Regions from separate parts of the Homo sapiens genome. Here region 1 is linked to region 2. The links come from fine-mapping of genetic effects on gene expression. A gene starts in region 2. The other region holds a variant in brackets. All regions are shown on one strand. Distances are between the middles of the regions.

The links. PIP is the estimated chance that this variant, and not a neighbour inherited with it, causes the effect.
Region 1: its variant is fine-mapped to the expression of SAR1B in lung (TOPMed, PIP above 0.99). The same link has a PIP of 0.9 or more in nasal epithelium and whole blood.

The regions. Positions count from the first base shown.
Region 1 is chr5:134,609,966-134,612,875 of GRCh38, forward strand. It overlaps SAR1B (secretion associated Ras related GTPase 1B), which reads right to left. Exons shown (of 7, transcript NM_016103.4): 4 at 2,726-2,791. Among named protein-coding and RNA genes, the nearest start is that of SAR1B, 21 kb to the right of the region's middle. The variant T/A (reference allele first, on the strand shown) is at 1,601.
Region 2 is chr5:134,631,487-134,634,396 of GRCh38, forward strand. It overlaps SAR1B (secretion associated Ras related GTPase 1B), which reads right to left and starts at 1,342. Exons shown (of 7, transcript NM_016103.4): 1 at 1,242-1,342. RefSeq lists silencers at 1,054-1,163, 1,214-1,263 and an enhancer at 1,237-1,793.

The DNA.
Region 1 (2,910 bases), 22 kb before region 2:
TAAGTTCATTGGAGGACTGCTACTAGATCTAAAATATAAGCAGTAAAAAAACTACATATATGTGATTATATATACATAAAATGTGTGTATTTATATTACATATATATGCAGTGTTCATTTTTTGACATTTCTAGTTATCAGATTTTTTTTGCCAGTGATAAATTTGGAATGAGTGACAGAAGGAAATTAATATCAGGTACAAGCTTGTTAAAATAATAAGGCCGGGTGTGGTGGCTCACACTTGTAATCCCAGCACTTTGGAAGGCCAAGGCAGGTGGATTGCTTGAGCTCAGGAGTTCAAGACCAGCCTGGACAACATAGTGAAACCTCATCTCTACAAAAAAACACAAAAAATTAGCCAAGCCGGACACAGTGGCTCATGCCTGTAATCCCAGCACTTTGGGAGGCTGAGGCAGGTGGATCACCTGAGGTCAGGAGTTGGAGACCAACCTGGCCAACATAGTGAAACCCTGTGTCTCTACTAAAAATACAAAAATTAGCCAGGCTTGGAGAATCACCTGAACCCGGGAGGTGGAGGTGGCAGTGAGCCGAGATCATGCCACTGCACTCCAGCCTGGGTGACAGAGAGAGACTCCGTCTCAAAAAAAAAAAAAAAAAAAAAAAAAAATTAGAAAGTGTGGTGGTGTGTGCCTGCCCAGCTACTTGGGAGGCTGAGGTGGGAGGATGGAGCCCAGGAGGCAGAGGCTGCAGTAAGCCAAGATCATGCCACTGCACTCCAGCCTGGGAGACAGAACCAGACTCTGTTTCAAAAAAAATAATTAAAAAAAAACCAAAACAAAATTGTTTTACTCAGAAAAGAAGCTCAAATGTTAATAATTAACTGAAGTCTATGAAATCATAAGAGTAATTTTTTCCATAACATAACTTTCTTCACTGACTTGAGTTTTATGACATACCTTTTTTTTTTTTTTTTAAAGAGACAGGGTCTTGCTCTGTCATCCAGGCTAGTTCACTGCAACCTCAGACTCTTGAGCTCAAGTCATAGTCCCATCTCAGCCTCCTGAGTAGGTAGGACTATCAGTGTCTATCACTATGCCCCATTAATTGTTAAATTCTGTGTAGAGACAGGGTCTTGCTATGTTGCAAGGCTGGTCTTGAACTCCTGGCTTCAAGTGATCCTCCCAACCTCAGCCTCTCAAAGCACTGGGATTATAGGCCTGAGACCCCACACCCAGCCATTATGACATATCTTGAAACAACATAGAAATGAAGTCTCAGACAAATTCCATTAGATTCCAATTCTAATCATCGTATTCCAGAAATTATTTTGTGTATATGCCAGACAATTACATGTCTCAAATGTGCTTTCACTAGCCAGAACCATTTACAATCTTTTCAACTATATGTCGCATCAGGTTTTTAGAATGCCCACCAATTCGGTAATATTGGTTAGTTATGACTTACTATGAGGTAGATGTTGCCAAGTACTTTTGGGGATATAAAAAATGAACAGGCCAGGTGTGGTGGCTCACACCTGTAATCCCAGCACTTTGGGAAATTGAGGTAGGAGGATTGCTTGAGGCCAGGACTTCAAAATCAGCCTGGGCAAGATTGTGAGACCCCATCTCTACAAAAAAAA[T/A]TTTTTTTAATTAAAACAAAACAAAAAACAGGATTTTAGTCCCCGCAAGTTTAATATAAGAGATAAGGCAGTCTTTCCAAACTTGTTGTAGACATGTACACAAATATACTAAGTGCTATGAAGTATAGCTGAGAGCACTCCAACTGAGAATGGCTTCCCAAGGGAGGTAGCAGGGCATACGCTGGGGCCTAAAGGGGTTACTCATGTGCGGATGGGGATGGCATGAACAAAAGCACAGAGGAAAACACCAAGAAGGTCTGATTTGGTTGAAGCAAAAAGAACGGGAAGGGGAATAGAGGGAAATAAAAGAAAAGTAGGCCAGATGTGGTGGCTCACACCTATAATCCCAACTTTTGGGAGACTGAGATGAGAGGATTGCTTGAGCCCAGGAGTTGGAGACAAGCCTGGGCAACATAGTGAGTGAGACCCTGTCTCTATAAGATAATTTTTAAAAGCCCAGAAAAGTAAACTGGGACCAGATCATAGAGATCCTGAATGCCAGGTTAATGAGTTTGGCCTTTATTTTGTAAGTAATGAGTTAGCCACTGAAGGTTTTTTTGTTTTGTTTTGTTTTGTTTTTGTTTTACAGAGCAGTAACATGTTCAAAACATGATTATGACAGTGAGAGGTAGATTGAAGTAGAGAGAATGGAAGTTAATTTTACTCATACACTTTACCACCAAAAGCAATTCTCATTTGAATTGGCCAGAAGTATCATGAAAATCACCCTTTGCTTTTAAAGTATTTATCGGGGAGTAATAATCCCTAAATTTTAAATCTACTCTGGCCTTGCGTGACTAGAATGAGATTTCATGCACTAGAACTAATGGCCACATTTTTGTTAAGTTAAAATAAAACAAAGTGACTGTAAGAGTAAGAGAATCTTACCTTGAACGTGGCGAAATCCCATCTCTACTAAGAATACAAAAATCAGCTGGGCGCGGTGGCACATGCCTGTAATCCCAGCTATTGGGGAGGCTGAGGCATGAGGATTGCTTGAACCCAGGAGGCAGAGGTTGCAGTGAGCTGAGATTGCACCACTGCACTCCAGCCTGGGAGACAGAGTGAGCCTGTCTAAAAAAAAAAAAAAAAAAAAAAAAAAAAAAAAAAAAAAAAGAATCTTACCTTGAACATGTCCACCCAGATCAAAAGTTGTAAACGTCATGCCAGCAATGGTCAGTTCTTCGGAAGCTAAATAAGATTTTAAAATATTTTTACATGAAAATTAGAAACCCATTAATCGTGTAAAAAGTAAAGTAGAGGTTCCTTTTCAAAGACTTTCCTCCCCATCTAATTAAGAATAAATAGTA
Region 2 (2,910 bases):
CTTTCCTTCTTTCATTGTTTCAATGTGACCTACTCTTCACTGATACTTTAACACGGAATATAGGACGTCTTCAAAGACACTTAGTAATATAGAGGCTGATGTAAGAACACACAAATAAATAATACTATGTTTAATTTTTCAAGTTAAAAGGACTTCTTCACCTCATTTTGTCCACTGTACCAAACACCTTAAATTGCTGACGAATTTGGTTCTTTCAGCTAACAATGTCAAAGTTTTAGCTGTTTTAAAACAAATCTTCTTGGAAAAGCTTCAACACCTTAAAAATCAGTACAGTGGCCCACTGAGGTGGCTCATGCCTTTAATCCCAGCACTTTGGGAGGCCGAGGCGAGCAGATCACCTGAGGTCAGGAGTTGGAGACCAGACTGGCCAACATAGAGAAATCCCATCTCTACTAAAAATAGAAAAGTTAGACCGGATGCGGTGGCTCACGCCTATAATCCCAGCACTTTGGGAGGCCGAGGCAGGCGGATCACGAGGTCAGGAGATAAGAGACCATCCTGGCTAACACGGTGAAACCCCATCTCTACTAAAAAATACAAAAAAATTAGCGGTGCGTGGTGGCGGGCACCTGTAGTCCCAGCTACTCGGGAGGCTGAGGCAGGAGAATGGCGTGAACCCGGGAGGCGGAGCTTGCAGTAAGCCGAGATCGTGCCACTTCACTCCAGCCTGGGCGACAAGAGGGAAACTCTGTCTCAAAACAACAACAAAAATTTAAAAAATTAAAACAAAAATCAGTACAGTTTTCTCAACAGTGTATCTTTTTTCCACTTAACTGGGACTTTGGGCTACGGAAAACGTTAACCAGTACTAGTAAGGAAGCTCAATTTGCCTCTACACTAATTGGGAGCGCTGAAAACACCAGGCCGTGTCACAGCCTCTTCAGCTGTCAGTGAGACCCGCCACCTTCACCTTACCAGGTAAGGAAACTGAGGCCCAGGGGAAGGAAGGGGCTTGCCTGCAGCCACCTCGTTCTTTCCTGAAAAGACCAAGCGTCTGACAGCAGCAGTGTTCTGCCTCGAGGGCTATCAGACGGCCCCGCGGAGCATGGATGAGACCTGTCCTCCCTCGCGCCGCCTAACCCCGGGGTGAAAAACAGGCGCCCCTTCACGCAGTGCCACAGGCAGGGACTCAGAGTAGGTCTTGGCCCTAAAAGTGCGCCTTCTAGGGGATCCATAGCTGCTGCCCACCGGTCCTCCCAGAAGGAGGGGCTGTCACTCACCTGCGACTGGAGGGAACGCAATCCCCTACTTGGCGTTGGCCGTACACCAGGAGACCGAACTGCAAAGCGCGATGGCTGCCGTGGCCCCAGTTCGCATCAGCCCCTTCCGGGCCGGCGGGTGCCTCACTAGCGACAGTCCGCAGGACCGCGTCGCCGAGCGCCCTAGGTTCCGCCTCCTGGCAGTCTTGCCGCCAATTCCCCAGTTGAGCGAGGCTGCTCGCAACCCCTAACACCGCCTGGGTCTCCCAGCCGCCTGGTCTCCCCACACCCGCCCGCCCGAAGGGATTTTAGGGGCCTGCGTGCCGAGAAAGGAACACCCCATGCCTCCCTAGGGGAAATTACTTTTGGCATTTTTTTTTTTTGAGACGTTGTCTCGCTCTGTCTCCCAGGCTGGGGTGCAGTGGCACGATCTCGGCTCACTGCAGCCTCCACCCCCTGGATTCAAGAGATTCTCCTACCTCAGCCTCCCCAGTAGCGGGGACTACAGGCACCCGCCACCACTGTCCGGCTAATTTTTTTTTTTTTTGAAACGGAGCCTCGATTTTGTCGCCCAGGCTGGAGTGCAATGGCGCGATCTCAGCTCACTGTAACCTCCGCCTCCCGGGTTCAAGCGATTCTTCTACCTCAGCCTCCTGAGTAGCTGGGAGCACAGGCGCGCACCACCATGCCCGGCTAATTTTTGTATTTTTAGTAGAGACGGGGTTTCACCATGTTGGCCAGGCTGGTCTCGAACTCTTGACCTAAAGTGAACCGCCCGCCTCGGCCTCCCAAAGTGCTAGGATTACAGGCGTGAGCCACTGCGCCCGGCTAATTTTTGTATTTTTAGTAGAGACCGGGTTTCATCATGTTGGCCAGGCTGGTCTCAAACTCCCTAGCATAAGTGATCCACCTGCCTCAGCCTCCCAAAGTGCTGGGATCACCACCGCGCCCTGCCTAAAATACATTTTCAAAGTACACGTGCTTATTGAATTCATTTTTTTTTCTTTTTTTGTTATTTGTGCTTATTGAATTCACCAGTGATTTACACAATGTAGCTACGTACCAGATAATGTGTTGGATGCTGGTTATTCAGCTTTTATTCAGCTGGTTATTCAGTTGTTTTATAGACGGTCTTGGCCAGGCGCGGTGGTTCACACCTGTAATCTCAGCACTTTGGGAGGTCAAGGTGGGTGAATCACCTGAGGTTAGAGTTCAAGACCAGCCTGGCCAACATGGTGAAACCCCATCTCTACAAAAATACGAAAATTACCCAGGCATGATGGCAGGTGCCTGTAACGCCAGCTACTCGGTAGGCCGAGGCAGGAGAATTGCTTGAACCCGGGAGGTGGAGGTTGCAGTGAGCCGAGATTGCACCATTGCACTCTAGCCTGGGCGACAGAGCGAGACTCTGTCTCCGTCTCAAAAAATAAATAAATTAATTAAATTAAAAATAAATTTAAAAATTATATATATATATAGACGGTCTTGCTCTTTCTCCCAGGCTGGAGTCCAGTGGTGCTATCATAGCTCACTGCAGCCTCAATCTCTTGGGCTCAAGGAATCCTCCCATGTAGCTGGGACCACAGGCGTGTGCCACCAGGCCCAGCTAATATTTGAATTGTTTTGTAGAGATAGGGGTCTCATTATGTTGCCCACGCTGATCTTGAACTCCCGGGCTTAAGCGATCCTC